Linked DNA regions of Homo sapiens. The protein of the gene in region 6 interacts with the protein of the main gene of each other region in a biochemical or structural test. Each region holds a gene or a part of one and is shown on either strand. Other genes may lie near its edges.

What was found.
Region 1: the proteins of ARHGEF16 (region 6) and MAGI3 interact in a test that uses a peptide from one of them, tested with the Homo sapiens proteins (one large-scale study listed by IntAct).
Region 2: the proteins of ARHGEF16 (region 6) and SHROOM4 interact in a test that uses a peptide from one of them, tested with the Homo sapiens proteins (one large-scale study listed by IntAct).
Region 3: the proteins of ARHGEF16 (region 6) and SHROOM3 interact in a test that uses a peptide from one of them, tested with the Homo sapiens proteins (one large-scale study listed by IntAct).
Region 4: the proteins of ARHGEF16 (region 6) and LIN7A interact in a test that uses a peptide from one of them, tested with the Homo sapiens proteins (one large-scale study listed by IntAct).
Region 5: the proteins of ARHGEF16 (region 6) and PTPN4 interact in a test that uses a peptide from one of them, tested with the Homo sapiens proteins (one large-scale study listed by IntAct).
Region 7: the proteins of ARHGEF16 (region 6) and STXBP4 interact in a test that uses a peptide from one of them, tested with the Homo sapiens proteins (one large-scale study listed by IntAct).

Annotation. Positions count from the first base shown.
Region 1 is NC_000001.11:113,680,515-113,683,468, forward strand, and holds part of MAGI3 (membrane-associated guanylate kinase, WW and PDZ domain-containing protein 3), read left to right. Parts: intron 1-683; coding exon 684-822; intron 823-1,669; coding exon of another isoform or gene 1,670-1,779; exon of another isoform or gene 1,780-2,382; coding exon 2,383-2,954.
Region 2 is NC_000023.11:50,811,395-50,815,463, reverse strand, and holds the start of SHROOM4 (protein Shroom4), read left to right. Parts: upstream 1-1,269; 5' UTR 1,270-1,445; coding exon 1,446-1,562; intron 1,563-4,069. UniProt on the Homo sapiens protein: Probable regulator of cytoskeletal architecture that plays an important role in development. May regulate cellular and cytoskeletal architecture by modulating the spatial distribution of myosin II.
Region 3 is NC_000004.12:76,434,024-76,438,028, forward strand, and holds the start of SHROOM3 (protein Shroom3), read left to right. Parts: upstream 1-1,205; 5' UTR 1,206-2,029; coding exon 2,030-2,197; intron 2,198-4,005. UniProt on the Homo sapiens protein: Controls cell shape changes in the neuroepithelium during neural tube closure. Induces apical constriction in epithelial cells by promoting the apical accumulation of F-actin and myosin II, and probably by bundling stress fibers.
Region 4 is NC_000012.12:80,808,935-80,812,434, reverse strand, and holds part of LIN7A (protein lin-7 homolog A), read left to right. Parts: intron 1-751; coding exon 752-970; intron 971-3,500. UniProt on the Homo sapiens protein: Plays a role in establishing and maintaining the asymmetric distribution of channels and receptors at the plasma membrane of polarized cells.
Region 5 is NC_000002.12:119,962,422-119,965,921, reverse strand, and holds part of PTPN4 (tyrosine-protein phosphatase non-receptor type 4), read right to left. Parts: intron 3,307-3,500; coding exon 3,178-3,306; intron 426-3,177; coding exon 277-425; intron 1-276. UniProt on the Homo sapiens protein: Phosphatase that plays a role in immunity, learning, synaptic plasticity or cell homeostasis. Regulates neuronal cell homeostasis by protecting neurons against apoptosis.
Region 6 is NC_000001.11:3,468,165-3,471,664, forward strand, and holds part of ARHGEF16 (rho guanine nucleotide exchange factor 16), read left to right. Parts: intron 1-715; coding exon 716-772; intron 773-1,268; coding exon 1,269-1,429; intron 1,430-1,835; coding exon of another isoform or gene 1,836-1,917; intron 1,918-3,500. UniProt on the Homo sapiens protein: Guanyl-nucleotide exchange factor of the RHOG GTPase stimulating the exchange of RHOG-associated GDP for GTP. May play a role in chemotactic cell migration by mediating the activation of RAC1 by EPHA2.
Region 7 is NC_000017.11:54,975,265-54,978,764, forward strand, and holds part of STXBP4 (syntaxin-binding protein 4), read left to right. Parts: intron 1-3,500. UniProt on the Homo sapiens protein: Plays a role in the translocation of transport vesicles from the cytoplasm to the plasma membrane. Inhibits the translocation of SLC2A4 from intracellular vesicles to the plasma membrane by STX4A binding and preventing the interaction between STX4A and VAMP2.

The DNA.
Region 1 (2,954 bases), about 110 Mb from region 6:
TAGGAGGCTGAGGCGGGCGGATCACGAGGTCAGGAGATCGAGACCATCCTGGCTAACACGGTGAAACCCCATCTCTACTAAAAATACAAAAAATTAGCCGGGCGTGGTGGCGGGCGCCTGTAGTCCCAACTACTCGGGAGGCTGAGGTAGTAGAATGGCGTGAACCCAGGAGGCGGAGCTTGCAGTGAGCCGAGGTCTCGCCACTGCACTCCAGCCTGGGCGACAGAGCAAGACTCCGTCTCAAAAAGCAAAACAAAACAAACAAACAAAAAATCCTACACAGGAAAGTTTTATATGGCTATTAAAGATCTGGGCATCTTCAAATCAAGAACCAAATTCTAGAATTTGATTAACATTCTAAATTTGATTTCTATAAATTTAGAAAATTCCAAATCTGATTCTAGAATTTGATTCTTGATTTCAAGATGTCCAGATCTTAGTTAGTAGCCATATAAAACTTTCCTGTGTAGGATTTTTGTGAGTAAACCTGAACATTGCCACTTCCTGTTGTTTGTTGTCATCTGTCCTCTCATCAACTCTCACATGGCAGTACTGGGTACACGTTAGGTATTTTACAAACGAAAGAATCACTTAGCAAGGTTGAATGGCTCAAGAGCTGACAAAAGCAGAATTTACAAAGGATGCATAGTTTCATGTTGTTCCTGTGAATGTTCTCTGTCTAGGTTGGTGACCAGATTGTTGAAATCAATGGGGAACCTACACAAGGAATCACACATACTCGAGCAATTGAGCTCATTCAGGCTGGTGGAAATAAAGTTCTTCTTCTTTTGAGGCCAGGAACTGGCTTGATACCTGACCATGGTAAGTAAAGTAGCCCACTAGTAGCTGAAAAGTTGTATATTAGGGAGGGGACAGAAGAAAAAGGAATATATATTTGGAGAGGATAGATATTTTACTAGTTAATTCAGAGGTGAATGCTAGAACCATGAAAAGCTAGTTACATAGCAGAGTTATCATAAATAGTATTAGAAAACAAGTGACTTAGGCAGGACTTTCGTTGGAATGGAATGTATTTTAAATTTAATCAGAAAAAACATATAGTTGTTTTTGTAGAGAAATGTACCTATTAAAAAAGTGTATTAGAGGCAAACAATTTAAATACCATAAAAAATGTTTTAAATCTCTTCAAAATATCCCAGCTTTTTCTCTTACTTAGCTAATTACACATTACCAACCAATATTTTTATTTCTGTAAAGCAAGATAAGTTTATATTATAATGAATGCGCAGCATGAAAACTTAGGCTTTTCTGGTGACTCGGCAAAAACAAGTTGCTATCACCCTACCTGGAGACAGGGAGTTGGACCTGAGACCATTTCTGTCCTGTATTAATGTTAAACTTCCTGGGTTTCCATGGCATGTTTTGAAATATCATGGTATTTGAAAGTCACTGTTTTTTGAGTGCACTATTCTAGAAATAAAGGCAGTACCACACCCACGCAGTACTTGCCTCATCTAGCTCCCCACCTCCTGCCCTACCCCACCCCACCCCACCGCTTTTGAGGGATAAGTGTAGACATAACCTCCTACAGTACCCTTCCAGCTTATGATTCTCTGACTGTATTATCTTCCACCATCTGCTTGTAAATCATATGTTCCCAGTGACATCTTTGCTAACTGCACTGATTTTTTTTTTTTTTTTCACATAGTCCTAGGCTTTTTCTCTTCCCTCTTCAGGTTTGGCTCCTTCCGGTCTGTGCTCCTACGTGAAACCCGAGCAACATTAAGGCTTTCAGGGCTTTTCTTGGTCTTTCCTTAAAAAGACTTGGTAAATTTGCATGTCTTGTAAATCACTTTCTTCTTTTGTTTTCTTTTAAATTAAAAATGATGCTATTAAATACATCTATTTCTATCTTCTGCACTTTTCAGTCTTCTTTTGACATTAAATTTGACAGCTTAATGCAAGAGAATTATTACAAATGCCCATGAGCCTCATTCTGGTTACCACAGTTTGGTTTCCTTTATTAATTAGTGATTTTGCCATATCCTAAACTGTATCAATTCATAATAATTAGTGAGCTTCTTGGGCCACGTAATTTGGTTCAGCTTTATAACTTGTAAGTTCTAATTGGGCTTTACTAATAGAGAATTTACAGATCATATATTATCTCACTAATTATATGTAATTGGAAAAAATGAATATTATTTTGTGTATATAAACAACCCATCCTTCATGTATGAACAGATGTCTGTACACATCCGCCTTTATAGAGAGATATGTTGTAAACATATACAAACTGTATAAAATACTCAGGCTTTTTAAGCAGTTACGACAATTCAAATGGCTGTCAAAGTTCAAAACGTATTGTTCCTATTTGTAATTCTAAAATTTAATAATGTTCCATTCAAATCACTTTTTTAGGTGATTGGGATATTAATAATCCTTCGTCTTCAAATGTGATTTATGATGAACAGTCACCATTACCCCCATCTTCACATTTTGCTTCCATATTTGAAGAGTCTCACGTGCCAGTAATTGAAGAATCTTTGAGAGTTCAGATATGTGAAAAGGCAGAAGAATTAAAGGACATTGTGCCTGAAAAGAAAAGCACTTTAAATGAAAATCAGCCTGAGATAAAGCATCAGTCTCTTCTCCAGAAAAATGTGAGTAAGAGGGATCCACCCAGCAGTCATGGGCACAGTAACAAGAAAAATCTATTAAAAGTAGAAAATGGTGTTACACGAAGAGGTAGATCGGTTAGTCCCAAAAAGCCAGCCAGTCAACATTCAGAGGAACATTTGGATAAGATTCCTAGTCCTCTAAAAAATAACCCCAAAAGAAGACCCAGAGATCAATCCCTCAGCCCCAGCAAAGGGGAAAATAAAAGTTGTCAGGTCAGCACCAGGGCAGGCTCTGGACAAGATCAGTGCAGAAAAAGCAGAGGTCGGTCGGCCAGCCCAAAAAAGCAGCAAAAAATTGAAGGAAGCAAAGCT
Region 2 (4,069 bases), on a different chromosome or scaffold from region 6:
TGCGTTGAAGAGGCAGTGACAGGTGAGGAAGTAGAAGTAGAGAGTGGAAACCTTGACCGCAGAAAGCTGGCTGTGAAGGAAGGGGCCGCAGTGTGTTTGTTGGCCATGAAGAAGAAGCTGCACAAGAACAGGGGAAGAAACTGAACAGGCGAGACAGAGTGGGAACATCCTGTTGAGTCACAACTGAGTTGTCAACACTTTCTCCGCTAGTGCGAGGCCCTTTAAAAATTCACTGCCCGCATGTGGCTCCAGAGAAAACACCTCAAAGAGAGAAGATAACCTGTCCAAGTGAAGGCAGAGAAATCAGCACAAGATTCAGTAACAAATTCGCTTTTCAGGACTATTATTGTGGCTGTTTGGTCTATTACAAAAGCCCAGCTCAGAAACTACAAGGTCAAGCTTGAACAGATGTGCAGAGATGTTCTGGACCCAGTCTAAAAGCTGATTCTTCCCAAAGGCACAACATTATTAATTGGCCAGCTTATCAATGGATGCTCTTTCCTGTAGGTTTGTTTAGAGACAATACTGCTAGTCATAAAGTTTGCTGATTGCTGGCTTGCTCATCTCGGTGGGGCAAGTGCAAGGCCGTGCCAGGAACTCCAGATGACTGGAACATACACAAGCACAGTGCTAGCCATAGACACCAACACTGAGCCAGGGTGCGGGGGAGCCCGAGCAGGGGGCATCCTCAAAGTGCTTCTTTATTTAAACTATGCTCTGGGGCAATGTTTCATAATGACCCCACACACCTAGCGCGTACACACAGAGCAGTCTACACACACAGCCTCACTATGTCCGCTGGCCTGCTGGCTTTGCTTTCCACCCCTCTAGGCAAGGTCCACAAATTAGCAGCCTTTTAACCCTCCCAGGTCTCCGTTCTCGGGACCTTCAGAAGAAAAAGGCAGTCAGAGAAACATGAACGCGCTAATCAGGAAACCAGCGTTTCAGCCCACTCAGCCACGCGGGCCGTCCACACTAACGACTTTCACCTCCCCTCGCCTGGGCTGGCTGGAGGGGCGGGGAACCCGGCAGTAAAGAGGAGGACCAAAGAGGGGCCCTGCTTGAATGAAACAATGTAACAATTGATGTGAGGCCTCGCCTCGCTCCCACTCCCCAGCGATCCTATAGGCGAGGTCCCAGTGACTGCCCCTCCCCATTGCTCCGTTTTCTTGTCCATTACGCGCTATCCCTCCGCCTCTCCTTCTTTCTTTTCTTTTCTTTTTTTCCCTTCTCCTTTTCCCCCCTCTCTCCCCCTTTCTCCAGCTCCGTGTCATTTCCTCCTTGCGCTCGCTCGCTGCCTGAGCGTCTCCAGCCGGGAGAGTAGGCGGAGCAGGGCGGTGCGGGGTGGCGTAGAGCTGGAGGGCGATGGTGGCGGAGCTGCTGGGGGCGGAGGCAACGTAGCCCCCTCGGAAAAGGAGCCCGGCGGCGCCTGAGCCCAGCCGAGGATGGAGAACCGGCCTGGGTCCTTCCAGTACGTCCCTGTGCAGCTGCAAGGGGGGGCACCCTGGGGCTTCACCCTTAAGGGGGGTCTGGAACACTGTGAGCCGCTCACAGTGTCTAAGGTAAGAACTGGCGGCTGATGTCCTAACGGCGCCTAACTTTGAATGGACAAGCGGGTGCGAAGGCTGCCGCTGGACGGGGCCCTCAGGCCAACTTTGAAACTTAGGGCTGGGAGCGAAAGACCCTCTGAGCGGCACGGAGGGGTCTTGCCACCAGTCCAGGTGCAGACATCCCCTAAGGGTGGCTGGAACACGAGCTGGGAGCACAACTGGCCCCCGGCTAGAACCTTGCGCGCAGACACACTCGCGAGGGCGCTGGGGCAGCCCTTGCTGCCCCACGTCGGGGCGGCTACTTCCCTCAGTTTGGGCCGAAGGAAGTGGAGGCTGTTGGGGATTTCTCCTTGGAGGCCTCTGCGTCCCTGCGGGACAGTGAAGGACTGAAGGGACAGTCATCGCGGCTTGGCAGCTCTCTTGGCAGCGTTGTCCCCTCTATCGACCGGCGGGCCGTCCCTCCCAGGCAGGTTGCAGGGCTAGGGGCTGGTGTGGGAACGGAGATGAGGCCATTGGTGGCTTTTGCCAGCCACACTTCCCACGGCCGGACGCGCACACATCCATTCAGCTCTTGGGGCGTTGTTGCCGCCGGTTCGGCTCGGCCTCTCCCTCCCTCCAGAGTCCTGCCCCAGCGCCGGCGAGATTTCCTGCACGTTGAGAAGTGTGGAGGAAACTTGCGCCATGGAGCGCAGCTGTGCTGGAGCTACTGCTGTTGCTGCTGCCGCTGCCGCCGCCGCCGCCGCCGCCGCCGCCACTGCCGCCGCCGCCGCCGCCGCCAGGGTTTGTTTGTTTTAGGAGTCTGTGATCTGCTGGAAGCCAAGTTGCAGCTGAGGACAGGAGAGAGGAGCTCTCCTGAGTGCTCCAGAACCCCCAAAGCGAGCCTCCCCCGTAGGGGTGAGGGCGAGGGGTAGGGGCAGCTGGAGCTGTTACCAGGAAGAGTGACTTGTGGGACGACTCACCTTGAGGTGCCAGATTGCCAAGTGAACGGACTTTACGAACTTTATTCCACTTTTTTGTTGTTTCTCTTAAATCCTCAAATCCGAAAAGCCCTCCCGCTTCCAACCCGCTTAAATGGCAGTTGAAGTTGTAGATGTGGGTTCAGGCTGGAGATAGAAAGATGTGTCTTTTCAGCAGGGAGCAAATATCACTTTTTTTTTGCGGGGGGGTGGGGTTCAACATTGGTCACATCTCAGCAGAGGGTTCAGCAAACGTCCACCGCAACACACACCCACAATAACCTGTGCGGCATTCGCCTTGCATTGGAGCCTGTGGTTGACTTCCAGTGTATGGGATCCTTCAGGCCTTGGGGCCCACACTCTTAGCAACCCTGGAGTGTTGCCATGGGTGTACCAATCAGATTGAGGAGTCTGAGGTATGCTGAGGCAACATTTTGAGGGGCTGGCAGGGACCCCTCTGATCATTAGCCTCCCCAAACTAGCCCAGATCTTCATCCAGCACCCTTTCCCCCATACTTGTCATGTACTTTAACCAGCCTGAGATGCGTTTGTCATCCACTGTCACAACCCCTCCTGAGGCAGTCTCCCTCCAGTGTTCTCTGGAGAAAGTTATATGCTTTTTTTTTTTTTTTTTTTTTTTAACAAAAACACTCAACTCCTTTGGTGAGGGGAATCCTGGCCTTCAGGAATTTCTTCTAATCAAGCTCCTCCTCTCCCCACTCTTTCCACCAAGGTCACAATGGGATATGCAGCCCTCCATGATCTGGCAGTTCCTCCCTTTCTTTTTCTCCTCACACCGCCCACAGAATTTCCACAGTCTGCCTAGACAACCTGCCTTGGAGAGGTCATTTTTCAGCTCTGCCCAGAGCTGACCCATCTTGAGAAGCACCCCAGAGAGTGCTTGCTGCTGTGGTCCCGGATTATTTTGTGAGCCAGTGAGAGCATGGCAGGGGGTGTTACTAAGTATGGGGCAGCCAGCAATTTGTGGTCTGGCTGGGGGATTATTTGAGAGGGTAGATGAGGGTTTCCTTGGCCAAGCTGTAGAGGAAGTGCTTCGTGTGTTGAGAGGCAGGGTGCCTTTTAATGATTCCCTTTCCACTGAATGTACAGTTGACCCCTATTATATGAAGGCTCATTATGACATGCATTTAGATATGCAAGGGATAAAATTATTTCTCCCATTCCTCCCAAATAGCCTAGTTCTTAACAGTAAAAGTCAGTTATAACTGGGTTGGCTTCAACGGTATATAAAGGGACCATAGTATTTTTTTAAGCACAATGATTGCCTGTATTGTGTTTTTCTTGACAAGACACTGTTTTGGCATATTTCATTAATTCCCTCTTCATTTTTCAACCTTGATTTTATTTCCTTTTATGATTCAGAACAATACAGCTTTCTCCTTGAAAACAGCCTTCTTAGTCTGTACACACTGGTTGGGATGGGTGGAAGGTAATAGAAAGATAATTGGGTTGGCAGATTAAAAACTTGGGTTCTAATCCTTTTTCTGCCACTCTCTAGTTCTGGAATCCTAGGTATATCACTTGCCCTACCTGGGTCTAGGC
Region 3 (4,005 bases), on a different chromosome or scaffold from region 6:
TTAAAATACATATGTTCTTTGAAATGAAAGAAAAGCTAATGTTTCTCCATTTATTCTAACTTACAAATTAAGCTGTAAAAGAAAACCACAATAGAAATTGCGTAAATTACCCTTAAGAATCAGCCAATTTTTACCACATACTTTCATTTGGTACACCTTAGGTTTCCTTATGTTTCCATTCACATACTACCATTACATAAGGTTTTACTTTTTTTTTTTTTTTTTTGTCTTTGAGCCCTTCAAGTGAAGTTACCATTGAAAATCAAACAATACCTGTCCAGTGTTGTAAATTAAATATCGTGTAGTTTGATATCATATACCTGCCTTTCCATATCAGCCTTTCATTAATTATAAGTACAAACACCAAAATAATTGTTATCAAGCCCCACAGTAGTTTTTAACTTCAGTTTTCAACTTAATTCTCATTATCCCATACTTTTAAACAGAAAAAAGTTTTAGTACATATATTACCTGGAAGTAATTCTAATCTGTTCCAATAACTAAATAGCTGAGGCTTCTGGGTTAGATATGGTTATCTTCTACTGTTCAAATTTTTAATACAAAGCATGAATGTTAAATTTGTATATAACATTATTACAAAATGACACTGGTAACATGAAATCAGAACAACATTCTTTCCCGAGTACCTAGTACTTACCCACAAGGCATTGTAGATTTCTTTTCATTTAAAGAGTGGATAACAATCTTGGAGTAGATAACAATGAAAACCTAGAAAAAAAAACCCACCTCCTGTTTTTATTGAGTCAAACAAGCAGAACTTTGATTGGAAAGTCCCATTTCATATATTACACTGGTAGTATTTTCTTCTAACGAAAAAAAAAAAGCCCTTGTGCCACCACCTTGACATGTACTTAAACGTTTACCCAAATCACTTAGGCATTGCTTCTCAAACTTGGCTGCATAGCAGAATTGCCTGGAGGGTTTTTAAAAACACAAATGCCTATGTCTCACTCCCTGAAATTCTCCTTTAATTGGTACGAGGCGGGGCTATTCTAGGAACTATTTTCTATCCCTTGGCAATTAGCCATCTGTATAGTATTTTTAACTTCCTACGTGTTATTAACTGTAAGACTGTTTGAATTGTCAGGTCTTTGTGGTGAGCTGAATTCTGCATGGCAGTGCTTACTGTGCAGAAAGGTTGCAATGCCTCACTTTGCCTTAATCCATGTTCCTCTAACTTCCTTACTCTTTCTCTCAAGAGGAGGCAAGTGGCTGTGGCGGCCGCAGCAGTGGCTGATCATCACTGAAAATACCAAAGAAAAGAACTGAGCTGCCTCCTTCATATTTTTTCCATTGAGGATTAATTTACCGTGCTTTTTCATTTTCTCTACATCCTGCAAAAGTTTTTTTCTCTCCTAAGAAACAAACTATGAACTGATTGTTGAAAAAAAGAAGTAAAAAGTTTTAGCACAGCTTCTCTGTCTCTTCGGGACAAGTTAGAAAATTCTGAAGTGAGCCGAAGCATAGTAAGTGCTTTCTTTCTTTTTAAGCTACTTCTGGGGAGGGAGGAGGCTATTGTAATGGTAAATTTCACTCCGAGAGGAAGAAAGGGTTGATAATCAATCAAAAATGAGGTATTCCTTTGAGTATTTGTGATTTTCTTACTATATTGTAAGATGCTTTTAATTTTCTCTGTAAAATAGGCAGAAATGGTTTTAGTGTGTGTATGTGTGAAATAAAAGCTCAGAAAAGCAATCTTCAGAGCGCCACTGAAGGAAGTTTTGACGAACGGAGTAGAGATGTATACCACTTGGGGGCTTCAGTGAGAACCCAGAATTCCTGGAGGAGGATTTACATTCAGAAATGTTGAAGTGAAAATTCCTTCTGGTTCAGCATCTTGGAGTTCAGCTTGGAAGAACATTTTACGTATGGAAGAATTTGCTTCTCCAAACCTCTCTTTTGGCCATTGTGTGTCCTGAAGGATGGGACAACTTGTGCTGTAGAAGCACTGCTTGCCTGAGTTTGCTTCAGGCATTTTAAATTTAACTTGAGGGATCATGTGTTTGGCATGATGAGGACCACTGAAGACTTCCACAAGCCTAGTGCCACATTAAACTCTAACACGGCCACCAAGGGAAGGTACATTTATCTGGAGGCATTCCTGGAGGGAGGAGCTCCCTGGGGTTTTACTCTAAAGGGTGGCCTGGAGCACGGAGAACCATTAATCATCTCTAAGGTATGTTTCTTTTTCCAATATTGCCTTTATTCAAATTGTTTTTTTCAACTTGTCAGATTTGTCAAAAATGCAAAATAATGAGAACTGCCTTAATATAACTTAATTTGCTGTTTCATGCCTTTCTGATTATCTAGAAATATTTTGGATAGCCTGGGATTTGAAAGAAAAATGTGTCTAGCTCATTTATTCTATGAAATCCGAAGAAAAATATGCCTGTTTGATGGATAATCTTCTCTTTTTGTGAATGAAATCGCATACAATCAGTTACCACATGAGCTTTTCAGTTATAAATCAGATTAAAGATTAATAACATGGTTAAGATGGTGGCATGGTATATATTTGTGCATTCAAAAATATCTGCTTTTTCTCTCTTCAACTGAAAATAGCATCTAAAAATATTTTAAGTTTGCTTATAATTCTGGATAATAGATTGCATAAATACCATGTGTTGCTTTTTTTCCCCACACTCAGAAAGGAGAATTAAATCAGCTTTCAGCATAACTCAAGATCAAAACATTTCTGCCTCTCCTATTTATCTGTATATTTGAATCCCTTTTTAAACCTTAGTCATCCTGCAGCATACCTCAATTCTTCATTTATCTTTTGGTGTGGGTAGTCATACCAATGAAATATTTATGTACTGGGGTTAATATTTCTATTTTTCTCTTAAACTACAGATTAACATTACTTGTTATAATATTGCTTTTAAATTTTTAGAGTATTTAATAGTCTGATACAATAGATTATAATGGCTTTTCACACATGTGCATTCATCAAGAAACATTTGTAATTAAGGGAGAAAAAATTTTTAATTTGAGGGTGGGAAGAAGGTAATATGGATTGCATTTGAGCTCTGTTATTGGTTCAGGTTACTTTTCATATCCCCAGAAATAATTCCAAAAGGTTATTTTTCAAATTACTGAAGTAATTCTTACTGTGGATGAGCCAGGGAGAACTGGGTTTCACAGTGATAAGCCACGAGTGCACGGGACACCATTATAAGTTGTATGACTTTTCCTTAACTTTCTTAAGTAAAACAAAAGGATGTGCATATGTGTGTGTCAGTTAGGAAGGCTTCCCCCTGTGAAAAAAATTCAAAACCGAGTTTATAGTGGCTCTCAGTAAATTGGGGTTTGTTTTTCTCATATTACAAGAAGTTTGGAGGTAGATTTTCCAGGCAAGGGGAGCAGCAGCTCAATAATGTGATCAAGGACCCCACTTATCTCTCCACTCTGCCATTCTTATGATGTTGGCTTTGTCTTCATGGTTGCATGATGGATCCCACAACTCCAGCATTGATTGCATCTTCATTCCAGACAGGTTTTTGGCTTTTTGTTTCTCATTAGACCTTTGCTTTCATCTCATTAACCAGAACTGTACCCTGTGCCTGTCTTTAGGCCAATCACTGGTAAGAAATGCCAGTGATTAATACAGACTGATTAGGATTTCTTTCACAGGTTTCTACAATAAGGACCTACTCTTCCTGAAGTCAAGGAATCATTGCCCACTGTTTGAATGATTTGAGGTTCTTTTTGCAGGAAGAAAGAGGGCATGGTTGCTGAATAACAGATAATTCTGCAATGAACATAAATATTGTCTCGGCATTTAAAAAGTCTAGTTGTACACAATTTGCCTGTCCCTTAATGATAAAATATTCTGTATCTATACACTACAGTATCTGACAGTTTGCTGACAGAAAGGTCTAATCCTCCCACTAATGAGCCAGCTTCTCTAAGCCTCCATTTTACCTGCAGAATGGGGCTATCCTACTATCTACTTTAATGGGTTGTGTTTAAATGCAACCATGC
Region 4 (3,500 bases), on a different chromosome or scaffold from region 6:
AGAAACTTACACTGTGCACATCTGATTTCGTGGTTATTTTTCCTGTGGCATTTTAAATTAAGAATTCCTTTTCTATTGAAAAATGATTAATGTTCACCTTTCTTTTATTTTAGTTACTTTATGTTTTTATGTTACATTTAAATTTTAATTAATCTGTTATATTTAGCATAGTGTATGAGATTGAGTCTCCATTATTTTGTATTATTTAATTTAGTTAATAGTCCTTTTCTCCTTTGGTCTAAAGTCCACATTAATAATAAATAAAGCTTTCCATGTGATGACTCTCCTTCTGGACTCTGTGCTATGTTCTACTATCTCTTTTATACACACAATAAGACACCACTTTAATCATTGTAGATTCTTAATAAATTTTAATATCTGATACAGAAATTTTCTCTTTGTTACTATGTTTTAATTTTTTTCAAAATTTTGTTGACTAGTGCATTTACTCTTCCAGATAAAATTTGGAAATTTCATTCCTAATGTTAGCATTATAATTTAGGTCTTCATTGCTTTTCACCCTTATGACCTGAATCCCCACACAGTCCATTCTGTGACCTAGTGCAGCCTAACCTGCTTATAGTTTAACCACAATGTAATAAATAATAACGATGATGGTAAGATAACTCATTTGCCATGTTTTCTTAAAATTTTAAATTTTGGGTTCTTAATGTGATATTAATTTCAGATTTGTCTCCAGGGAAAAGAACATTGAACCTCCTCCCTTTAAGAAGTGTCATTGTATTTTCAGAGTGTGGAAGGAGAACACCATGAGAAAGCTGTGGAACTACTCAAGGCTGCTAAAGACAGCGTCAAGCTGGTGGTGCGATACACCCCAAAAGTTCTGGAAGAAATGGAGGCTCGCTTTGAAAAGCTACGAACAGCCAGGCGTCGGCAGCAGCAGCAATTGCTAATTCAGCAGCAGCAACAGCAGCAGCAGCAACAAACACAACAAAACCACATGTCATAGGTGAGAAGTGACTTATTCTATACAAGGAGTATATATATATATATACACACACACATATATGTATATATGAATATACTTAAAATATATTTTAGATATGTTCTAAAATATATTTTCTTAGCTGAAACAAAATCATTAGATTTAAATAATCCAAACAAAATCAATCAAACAAAAGACAGTGATCTAAAAGTATATAAGCAAGATAGTTTATGTGCCATTCAGCTATATTCTCCACAAATATAAGATAATTTGGAAAATGATATACTTTGAAAGGGGCAAGTACAGGCTCTAGGATGCTTTTATACAAATTAAGAAAATGCAGCCTCTGTGCAAACCCAGATCCTAAGGAGAAGAGTGTGGGCTGGATTCCAGGCCTCACTCACCCTGTTGGCCAGTTGCCTTTACACAGTGTATTAACTGCACAACCTTATAGTGCTGACCCTGGAAAGATCTCCTTTAGAATACTGAGATACAATTTATTGGAAAAGTGCCCCACTGAAAAGAATGAAGCTGAGACCTGCCACTGTCTATGCTGTAAGAGATTCTGAAGTTCTCTGCGGATGCTCCTTTAAAGTGTGTCTAACATACAAATGGCCAACAGCTATATGAAAAAATGCTCAACATCTCTAATCATCAGAGAAATGCAAATTAAAACCACAATGAGATATCACCTCATACCTTTTAATTTGGCTATTATCAAAAAGAGGAAAGATAACAAGTGCTAGTGAGGATGTGAAGAAAAGGGAACCCTTGTACACCGTTGGTGGGAATATAAATTGCTACAGCCAATTTGACAGACAATATGGAGGTTCCTCAAAAAAGTTCATAGAATTCCATATGATCCAGCAATTCTGCTTCTGGGGAGATATTCAAAGGAATTGAAATCAATATGTCAAAGAGATGTTTACACTCCCATGTTCAATACAGCATTATTACAACAGCTAAGATATGAAAACAACTGAAGTGCTATCAAGGGATGAATACATTTTTTAAATGTGGTAAGTATGTGATAGATATCTATATCTACCTACACACACACACACACACACACACACACACACACACACACACACAGATGTATACCATTTAATATTTAGCCTTTAAAAAGCAGGAAATGTCATTTTTGTCAGCGTGGATGGGCCTAGAGAACATCATGCTAAGTGAAATAAGCCAAGCATGGGCAGACAAATACCACATGATCTCACCTATGTGTGGAATCTGAAAAACTTTAATTCATAGAAGTAGAGAGTAGAATGTGGTTTCCAGAGGCTGGGAGGCTGGGGGAGGAGGGTAGACAGAGAAAAGGGAAAAGGTCTTAGCTAAAGGTTACAAGTTTCAGTTAGGTAGAAGGGGAATAAGTTAAGATGATCTATTATACAACTTGGTAACTATAGTTAATAATACTACATTGCATATTTCAAAATAGCTGAGAGAATGGACTGTAAATATTCTCACCACAAAGAAACAATAAGTATTTGTGGTAACAACTTTGGTAGCCTGATTTGATCATTCCACAATGTATACATGCATTGAAATATCGCATTATAATCCATAAATATATAAAATTATTACTTGTCAATGAAAAATAAAACTTTAAGAGTTTTGAAAAAGTTGTAAAGTAGAAATAAAATGTGTCTAAGATTCTCCTGCCTTTTTCTAAATTCCACTTTGTAACAAAGAACACTAAATCAGGTTTTGCTGTATATTATCAAGAGAATTGAAGAAAAAATGTTAAGAGACCCCATCTTAGAAGTTCCTACTATGCCCTATGCCCTTATCACATTTTATCCCTAATCCTCAGAAAAAAACCTTCAAGGCAAGTATCAATAAATAGTTTTTTAGATGAAAATATGAAGCTAAAATAGCTTCAGTGGATTTCCCATGACTGCATTTACAGAAACATAGAATTCTTTTCCTTTTTACTCCATCAGGTTTTCATCTGCCAACATCAGATATTCTGGAGTTATATAAATTTTCCTTGCTATCCTTTGGAGAAGACAGTTCATATTGTTAGATACCTTTACACTATGATGTCTGTGAATGTGTATTTGAAGTGAACTTCAAATATTCTTGGAAAAATGATTGTGGGTAATAGTGGTTTTAGGTCATTCAACATCAGATTACTATTTGCACAAACAGAAATATTGGATATAACATGAGGCTTTTAATTGTTTGTGACACTTGTGAAAAGAAGAAGCTACAGGCTGGGAGCAGTGTCTCATGCTTGTAATCCCAGCACTTTGGGAAGCCGAGGTGGGTGGATGACGAGGTCAGGAGTTTGAGACCAGCCTGACCAACATCGTCAAATCCCATCTCTATTAAAATTCAAAAATTAGCTCCTGTAGCCCCAGCTACTTGGGAGGCTGAGGCAGGAGAATTGCTTGAACCCAGGAGATGGAGATTGCAGTAAGCCGAGATCGAGCCATTGCACTCAAGCCTGAGCAACAAGAGTGAAACTCTGTCTCAAAAAAACCACAAAAAAAAAAAAATGAAAAGAAGAAGCTACACAGAAAAGGGGGGAAAAGATAGGGAT
Region 5 (3,500 bases), on a different chromosome or scaffold from region 6:
TCTATTGTAAATTGTTAAGACCAATTTCAGAGGTGTTAAAATATGAAAAGGAGGAGCATCTAAGAATCAGTGCAATCAGTATTATTTTTATATCTTATGATAAAGTTACTGCCAATCATATGTTAGAACATATCCTTTGCCTCCTACCTTCAGAGCATAGCTTTGAGTTCTAATTATTACAGTGACAATAACACCATAAGGACAAAATATGTACTCTCTTTTAAAAATGACGTATCTGTTCAGCTATACACTCATAAAAGACGGAAAACAGAGTACCTGCAATGGACAACAACGGGTTCTTCCTTGCCAGCCCTCTTGTTTCGTACATGACAAACAAAATCTAGAAAGTCACTCGAATCATCAGGGACTCCATGGTCAGGCCAGGCTATGTACTGGATCTGAGTGAGTGGACGACTTTCATTTTTCTAAGAACAAATGAAAAATTATGCACCTTGACTTATGTATTATTGAAATTGTCCCTACAAACCTCATAAAATTCATCAGGAAAGAAGGGAGGGGGAGATAGAAAACTAAACACAGCTTGCAGCACACTTAGCATTGATCACTAGGTCAGCTGCTCTCTGACCCGCGTCCTCATAGTTGGTTGGTGCCTGTTGCCTCAGAATCCCACAGACCCATTACAAGATTATAGTTCCCCTTAACTGCTCTACAGATAACAACTTGGGACATTATGAAATGTTAGATTTCCCCTTTGAGACATTCTTTTGGGTCCTGCATACTGATGAAACTACTGACTCAGTTGGTCTAAAGGACCCTGAGGTAAGCTAACTCACCAAAGAATGCACCTCCTGATGATTTCATCCACCTTATCCCAACCAATCAACGATCTTAACTTCCCAGCCCCTTGCTCTCCACCATCCCCTTAAAAACCCCATCCCAGATCTCATCTCCTTGGGGAGATGATTTGAGGGTCTCCTCCCATCTCCTTGCTCGGTACCCTGCGATCATTAAACTCTTTATCTGCTGCATCCCTGCTGTCTCAGTGTATTCGTCTGTTATTGCACAGCAGGAATATGAACCTGTTGGTACTATGACATTATCTTTAAAATATATTCATGTCATTGGAATTTTAGAAGGAAAGCAAAACCAACCACTCCTCTTCTCCACCAAAAGTTATGTATAAACTCATTAAAATGCAAAATTTCAACAAAAAGGAAAGAAACTATTTTACAGAAATAGTTGTATCCATTTAAGTATGGCTAATTACATTACTACTCTTTTTATAACTCAATTTCTATATGTGTAAAGTATTTTAAAGATGATAATCAAGTACATAGGTAGAAACAAATTAAGACCCAGAGAAATGCTTAAAAAAAACTAATGAATTCTTGGGTGAGCAAAAATGGTAAAGTAAAAAACATTTTTTGTGAACAAAGCTGACCTAATCCTCACACAATGCAGATGAAATTATGGAAATCAGAAAAATAAAATCTCAAGATAAATGTATATTAAAAATTGGAGTTAATAAAAACACAAAGTCAAATCAGTGGGATTAATTCTTTTTGGAGAGCCAAGGTTGGTATAACGGAGACAGTAAGAGTATTGCGTTTAGATACATCTTGGTTCAAATCTTGACTCTGCCAGTTACAGCATTCAGTGTTTCAGAAAATAATTTCCTTCAACTGAAAAATGAAATAACATCTATACTTTAAAGGATCAGTCTTATGCTAAAAAGACTCCATGAGAGGACCTGTAAATCACCCCATCAGCTACTTGGCACCATATACTCAATAAATGGTTGCTATAGTCATTCAACACTATAATTATAACTATGGTTATTGCCATTTACACTGAAGAGAGCTTCCTGAAGAGTAAAAGTAAAAGGTATTCAAGACTTGAGGTAGTATCTGCTATCATTAATCCATCCATGTATGTATGTATTTATGGGAGCGAACTCATTTTCCCAATTATGTTTGGCTCAAACTTTAGAAACTAACTCATGTCTTAGTTCTAATGTACTCAGGGTGTGTAAAGAAAAGCCACTATGGTATATAAAACTGTCATGGATAATCTACAGGTGGAGTATAATAGAGACTATGCTAAAGATAGACATTATTTTATATAAACATACGTAGCCTATCTTTCATTATCTATTTGAGAAAATGAAGAAATATCATATTGGCTTGACCTGTTACATTAGACCATGAGCTACACAGTATATGTCCCCAAACCCTAAATTCATTCTGATGGACTCTAGCCCATAAAATTTTGAAATTTTAAAATTCTTGTCATTTTAGCTTTATTCAATGCCAGATTCCTTTTCTATAAATCAGCACAACTTCTGGCTTCTTCCCTTTTCGTCAGTAAGACTCTGTCTCTCTGGTTTCCTTTAATCATGCTCTTGGGGTTGGAGGGGAGTTCTCATTTCCAAAGGCTTGACCATTGATGGGATAGTCCTGGGCACTCATAGCTTGGGCTATTTGCTCTTCTCTAGCAGTTATTCTTTTAGTCCCTTTCAAAACCAAAGATGGTGGCAGGGGGATAGCTAGCTGCAGGCAGAGAAAGTAGGGTGCACTGTCTCTAGCAGCCTGACAGAACTGGCAGCATGACGCTCTCTACATACATCTTCCAATTGGGATACTGAGCCATCATTTATTAATCAGTTTCATTTGAAGCCAAGAGGACTGACTCAGGCAAAATTAAGAGCTGGCAATTAGAAATCTACACCCCATCTGCTGTCAGAAGGTCCTGGTTACAACCTTTTCCTTCTTAATAGGTAGGGGACTGTGAAGTTGCTCTCCTCTACTCTTTTAAAAAAGGAAAATAATTTAATAGCTTTCAATTGTTTTTTCCATTTCCACAGACACACCCAAATACTGTACTGATACTACTTGGAGTAAAAGTTTTTTTTATAATGAAACATATCTAAACAGTTGTTCTGAATAAGCAAAGTAGTAACAGTAGTATTATTTACCAGACTACTTTTTCACTGACCATTCATATTTAGTCATAGAAACTAAAGAAAAACATTAATTTTATAATAGAATAGGATAATACTCTTAATAAAATTCCAAAGTACCCCATTAAAGCAGATAAATAATTCAATAATTCTTATAGTATTTCCTAGCAACCAATACTCAAACTAAAAACATTTTCAGCTTTCAGTCTTTACCCTGAACACAACAGTTCTAATGAACAGATATCCTGCCTTCTTACCTCTTGGTTAAATAGGGTCATCTTCCTGAAGATATAGGCAGTGTTTCCTTCTTCAGAGTGGCAGGTAACTTGGTAGCATCCATAAGATGAACTGCCTGTGGGTTCTGGCCAATATTGGTGACATTTAACCTGATATTGATATAAATAAATAATAAATAAAATTATATACATATGGATTCATGTTCTCCAATTTTTAAAAATGTTTTTTTAATAAATTTCAAACATATAAAAGTTACAAGAAAAATTTAATAAATTTCATCTCGATCTGCTGACTAGTGTTTTTTTTTTTTGCGATGGAGTTTTGCTCTTGTTGCCCAGGCTAG
Region 6 (3,500 bases):
TACCGCACCCTGGTAACTGCCAGAGTTTCCGACCCTGCATGGGAAGGAGGCACTGGTTTGGGGAATGGGGGACTCACCCTTGGCCCAGGCGCTGTTGGCGGCCTTTCTGCCCAGCCCAGTGAGGAGCAGAGCACGAATCAGGGTGGCCTGAGTCCTGCAGAGGGGACCCCTGGGCGGTGTGGCAGCCCTCCTGGTCCTGACGTGCTCTACCAATCGAGCCACACTCCCGCCAAGGCGACCCGCCAGCTGTGGGCCCCGAGGAGGAGGGAGCCCGGGCGGAAACAGCGTCACCCATAGCTTCCAGGCAGGGCACTGACTCGCCTCGCCCAGGTGGGGTCTGAGTCACAGTCCTGCCCTCCACACTCCCTCCCTGGGTGGGCTCCGCACCTCTCCATCTGCCGGGAAGATCTGTGGGACAAGATCCCCCCCCGCCCTCTGGCCTCTCCCTCTGGATGCCCCATGCTCTTTCTGGGCTGCTTTGGGGCTCTGGCGGCTGGGGGGAGCGGGGGGCTGACCCAAGGCGGGTTACACAGAGAGGAAGGTGACGGGGATAGGCCCTCGGCAGGACAGGCCTACTCCAGGATCGGACCTACCTGAGCCCTGTGGGGTGGCTGTCCATGTTGGCCCTGGTCCATCAGGAGGAGGAAAGAAGGGAGACTTTGGCCCAGGCTTCTAGGACGTGTGACCGAGAGCTCCTGGGCCTGTGTCCCCCCAGGTGGTGGAATTGGGCATCCTGGACCAGCTCTCCACTGAGGAGCGGAAAAGGCAGGAGGTAAAAGGGCCCTGGGCGGGAGGGCTGTCCCCCATGGCCTGGGCCATGCAACACCCGGGGAGGGGCAGCAGCCACGGTGGCACCACCCAGCCATCCCTCTGCGGCCACCTCCAGTGCCAGGCCCTGTCACGCTGACCAGCGCCTCACACAGCCCCGGGCTGTGCTTCCACCTGCGCCAGGCCCTGACGGAGCCCCTTCACGTCACCGGGTGAATCCTCGGAGTCCAGGGGCTGCCATCACCCCCTTCTCTGACAAGGACGGGGGTCGTTGCCCAGCTTCAGCCGGCTCATAAGGCACCCAGCCAGGGGCATCCAGGGACGTCGGGCTGGCATCTCCAAGCTGGCCATTCTGACAGCCCCATCCAGGGGTGTGTCTGGGGTTCCTGTCCCCACCTGCCCCTGCCACCCGGGTCACGTCCTCCTGTTCCAAGCATTGGTCACCGAGGCACGCCCGTGTCCAGCGTCACTGTGGGGCTCACCTAGGCCCCTCTCCACAGGCCATGTTCGAGATCCTCACGTCGGAGTTCTCCTACCAGCACAGCCTGAGCATCCTGGTGGAGGAGTTCCTGCAGTCCAAGGAGCTGCGGGCGACCGTGACCCAGATGGAGCACCACCACCTCTTCTCCAACATCCTGGATGTCCTGGGTGCCAGTCAGAGGTGAGGCCACGCCACAGCCTTCCACACAGGGTCCTCTGCCAGGAAGGTGCCTCCCCCCGTGGGCACCGCACTGTCATCAGCAGGCCCCTGGGAGCCTGCGCTGCACCTTGATGTGGATGGTTTAGAGCAGCTGCTGGCTCCCGCGGAGTGTGATGACCTCTGAGGGTCCTTGAGGCCACCAAGAGCTGGCCCCAGGGCCGGGCTAAGCACTGGGGCTGTGGCATCCTGGTCGTTCTTAAGACGTGGAGCACTTCCCAGGGGTACAACCCTGCCCCACTGCCAAGCACCACCCCACCAGGACGTCCAGGCACAGAGGGCTGCATGATCCAGGCAGTGGTGGCCACAAGCTGCTCACCTGTAGGCAGGAAGCCTCGAGTTGCAGCTCTGGGTCATGTTCCACCCAAAGGTGTCTGGTGGCTGGACCTGAGCTCTGGTTGCAGGGCCTGGAGGTAGAGAGGCTGGACATGCAGCTGCAGCCATGCACGGGGGTATGTGCGTGGGGTGGGGTGGGGTGTGTGTGCGTGGGTGTGTGTGTGGGGTGGGGTGTCTGTGCATGGCTGTGTGTGCATGGTCAGTGGTGTGTGTGAGTGGGCTGGCCCCGAGGCCTGGAGGGTGGCTCGGGAGCATCCAGCACCCTGGTGTGTATGCATGGGTGTGTGGGGGCAGGGGTGTGTATGCATGGGCAAGGGTGTGTATGCATGGGCAGGGGTGTCTGCACGGGTGTGTCTGCACGGGTGTGTGTGGACAGGGTTGTGTGTGCGTGGGCAGGTATGTGTGTGTGTAGGTGTGCATGGGTTTGTGTGCCTGGGCAGCAGTGTGTGTGCATGGGTGTGGGGCAGGGGTGTGTATGCATGGTTGTGTGTGCGCGGGTGTGTGCATGGATGTGTGTGCATGGACGGGTGTGTGCACAGGCAGGGATGTGTGTGCGTGGGCAGGGGTGTGTATGCGTGGTCAGGGTTATGTGTGAGTGGGTAGGGGTGTGTGTGAGTGGCTGTGTTTTCGGTCAGGTGTGTGTGAGTGGGTGTGTGTGCGTGGGCAGGGATGTCTGTGTATCTGCGTGGTCAGGGATGTATGTGAGTAGGTGTGTGTGCGTGGGCAAGGGTGTCTGTGCATGGCTGTGTGTGCGTGGTCAGGGGTGTGTGTGAGTGGGCTGGCCCCAAGGCCCGGAGGGTGGCTCGGGAGCATCCGGCACCCTGGTGTGTATGCATGGGTGTATGTGCATGGATGTGTGTGTGGGCAGGGGTGTGTGTGCGTGGACAGGTGTGTGTGCGTGGGCAGGGGTGTATGTGCGTGGGTGTGTGTGCCTGGCCAGGGGTATGTGTGTGGGCAGGGGTGTGTGTGCATGGGCAGGGGTGTGCGTGGGTGTGTGTGCCTGGCCAGGGGTGTGTGTGCGTGGGCAGGGGTGTGCGTGGGTGTGTGTACCTGGCCAGGGGTGTGTGTGCGTGGGCAGGGATGTGTGTGTGCATGGACAGGTATGTGTGCATGGGCAGGGGTGTGTGTGCGTGGGTGTGTGTGCCTGGGCAGGGGTGTGTGTGCGTGGGTGTGTGTGCCTGGGCAGGGGTATGTGTGGTCTCGACCCTGTGCTGCTCCCTATATGCAGGAGGACCCCGGAGCATCGAGTCTCCTGAGCCTCAGCCTCAATGCTAACCTGAGGGGCGGTGCCTCTGGTCCCCTCGTGGGCTTGGGTGGCGCTGGGAGATGATTAGGGGCCTGTAGTGCCTGGCACAGGGCTGCCCCAACAGTGGTGGTTGCTGGCGCATTCTTATATCAGCCCCGCCCCTGGCGAGTCCCACCCATCTGCTGCCTGTGGGGTGCCCTTGCGGAACTTTGGGGCCCTGAGGGTGGGCAGGGAGCCGCCTTGTCCCTGGAGACAGGGGCTTCCTGTAGAGCTCCAGGGACCAGCTATGGGAAACTCCCAACCTCTGACTCAGCATGGGATGGGGCTGGGGGAGGGGGAGGGGTCTGGGATAGCGGCTGCCCCTCCCCCAGCTCTGCCCCCAGCCAGGCAGGCTTTGTGTTCTCTGAGCTCTGTGTCCTCCGGTCCCCTCTGCCTCAGGCAGCTGCATGTTTG
Region 7 (3,500 bases), on a different chromosome or scaffold from region 6:
AGTAGTAGCTGGGATTACAGGCGCATACCACCATGCCCTGCTAAAAATTCTTAATAATTATTTAACATGGGGCCTTGCATTTTCATTTTGTATTGGGCCCTGCAATTTATGCAGCCAGTCCTGGTCAAGATGTAAATAGATATAAATATAGATAGAGATGCAGATACAGATATAGGCACAATATTATATCTCAAATGCACTGACAGACAGTCTCACATGATTCAGGCCAAAGCACAGTCTAATTACGTGATTTAATTATGTGATTAAAGGCAAAGGCAGAAAACTAGGGAAAGTACAAAAGTGGAGAGCCTTTAGAGCCTTTACTTTTAACCTTTAGAAGGTTAAAGGTAAGAGATAAAGGGAAAGGCAAATTCAGGTCTCCTGAGAATAGTCAGGTTAAGTGAAATATGATCAAAACTCCAAACTTGCTACCATAGCCCATAAGACCCTAGGAAATCCAGACCCTGCCTACTTCTCTAACCTTATCTCCTACCACTCTCTCCCTGTTCACCACACTCCAGTTGCACTTCTTTCTTTTCTTTAAACACCTCAAGTTTGTTTTACTGCCCTCAGACCTTTTCTCTGCCTGGAATGCTTTGTCCCTCAGCTTTTTTCACAGATGACTTATTATTTGGATCTTAGCTGGGACACCCTCCCCAGTCTAAATTAGCCCTTCTCTCCTTAGTCACATTTGCTATCACCTTTCAATATCTGAAATCTAGTTCATTTAATTGTATCTTTTTTTTATTGTTTTTCTCCCACCACTAGAATGTAAATACCAAAAGAGCAATGATCTTGACTTGTTCACCATAATATCACATGCCCTTAGTGTTGTACCTGCACATAATTGTACTGAGTTAAAAATTTGGTGGATGAATGCATGAATGAAAGCAAACAGAAGGCAGTCCGGTAGCCTAAGGAAACTTCTGAGAGCAGTGAGCTGTTGTGCTGATGAAGACTCCTTTCAAGAAGACTAAGACTTTCTTTGAAGTAGTTTTCTGATGTTTCCCACTGAGTTGGGCTGTGTGTTACAGGCAGATGCTTATGCATCCTGAAATAGGACCAATTGTCCCATAGAACTGATATTAATCATTTCTTTGAATAAGCACAGAAATTGATTCTCCCATTGTTAAAACTTGAGAAAGTTAAATTTGTCTTATCTGAGTTACTTTCTCAGGAAACCAACCATCAGGCCTCCCAGATACTATCAAGAAACTGAAACTTACCAGATCATTGCATCTGGACAATATGATACCAGACCCTTCAGCCATCATGACTGCCTTACCCAGGGGTACCCAGTCCTTAGGCTGCAGACTAGTAGCCGTCCATGGCCTGTTAGGAACCCGGCCAGACGGCAGGAGGTGAGTGGAGGGCAAGTGGGCATTACCACCTGAGCTCTACCTCCTGTCAGATCAGTGGCAGCATTAGATTCTCCCAGGAGTGAGAACCCTATTATGAATTAGGCATATGAGTGGTCTAGGTTGCATGCTCCTTATGAGAATCTAATGCCTGATGATCTAAGGTGGAACAGTTTCATCTGGAAACCATCCCCCACACCCCCATGCGTGGAAAAATTGTCTTCCACAAAACTGGTCCCTGGTACCAAAAAGGTTGGGGACTGCTGGCCTAACCAATCACTTGCTACCTGTTGACCAACTCCTCTTCCTTACCCCTCCCTAATTCCTGTTTTCCCACACATACTTACATTTTTTCCCTGCCATATAAGCCCCTAATTTTAGCTCGTCAGGGAGAGGGATACAAATTTCCCATCTCCTTGGCTGCGGCACCCAGTTAAAGCCTTCTTCCCTGGCAATACTCCTTTCAGTGATTGGTTTTCTGTGTAGTGAGCAACAGGACCTAAACCGAACCCCTGGCATTTTGGTAACACCCCCAAGACAAATGAGTAGCATTTCTGAACTCGTTAGATTCTTGAAAGAAAAAAACATGCACTAGTAAACAGAATATTGCCTTTGGGTACAGAATAAAAGATAATAAAATACAGTTGGCCATCAGTATCCGCAGGTTCCACATACACAGGTTCAACCAATCACAGATTGAAAATGAACATTAGGCCTACAATGGCTGTGTCTTTACTGAACATGTACACACTTTTTCTTGTCATCATGCCCTAAATAATATAGCATAACATATTTACATTGTGTTTTGTATTATAAGTAATCTAGGGATGATTTAAAATATAGGAGAGGATATGCATAGGTTATGTGCAAATACTACACCATTTTATATCAGGGACTTGAATATCTTCTAATTTTGGTATCTGCAGTGTCCTGGAACAAGTTCCCTGAAAATACTGAGGGATGACTATAACTCTTTGATCTTTTATATATTGGTTTCCTGAAACTTTCATGTCATTTAAAAATGATCAGTTAAGTTTAGCCCAGGGAAAATAGTCATTCCTGATTTTGCCAATTTTCTTAAACAACCTTAGGATTATATAAATAGCTGATGTTATCTTGAGGAATCTCTGCTGTGATAAGGTATAAAACAAGTTACCAGTTTCTAAATGCTGTCATTTTTGTGTCTCCTCAAGTATAATACATCCAACTTTATAGGAAGAAATATTTACATTTTTAATATTAGCTTTAGTGAATAAATAAATAGTAGGCATTTCTAACTTGTCAGTCCACAGAAACCAGACAGATTATTTACTGAGCAGCCAACATCATTGTGCCCTCTTCCTCTTTTGAAATGACCTTAATGTGAAATGTCACTACACTAGTACACTTTTCCCTCCACTCTAATCCCTCCCAAATGACCAACTGCAGCCTACCCCATCCCATTCATGGGTCATACTGATCTTAGAGGTGGACGTATATTTTAAAAAGAAAATCGTTCCCTCAAAAAACATTGGGAGACTTGTAGTTTAATAAGCCTGCCATAAAATTTTTGATTTGTAGAGCCAAGAAAGAACCTTTAAAGATCATTTTATGAATGATTTTGACATCGTACATATGAAGACTAGGGAGCAGAGTAAGTGGCTGCTCAAAGTCATATGTCTAGTGGGCATCTACCCTCTGGACTGGTACTCTTCCCAATGCAATAAAAAAAACATGAAATATATGTACTATGTAATATGTACTATGAGCTTCTTTGCTATGAGTCATCTTTCTTTTTAAATTATAGCAGAAAATAAGTGTATTTATTTCTACTGCCTGTCAATTTGCTTACAAAGGAGTTGTCATAAGAAGTTATTTAAAGGATGTAGCTGAATTTCTTTGTGAAACACCAGATCTATGTTATTTTCTCTTTTAAATTGCAACATTTGTTGATACCTTAGCAAATGAAGATGAAAGAAGAAAATAACATAAAGGGTAAAATGACATTAAAGGAGACATAATTAGAAAGAGCTGATATTTAGATGCCAAGAAGGTACACTGGAACATGGTAACTTTTTTGATATTTTTCCTTCTTTATCCAAATAATATATCAAAGTATATATCCTTGTTGTAAGCCATTCAAAAAATAAAGAATAACTTAAA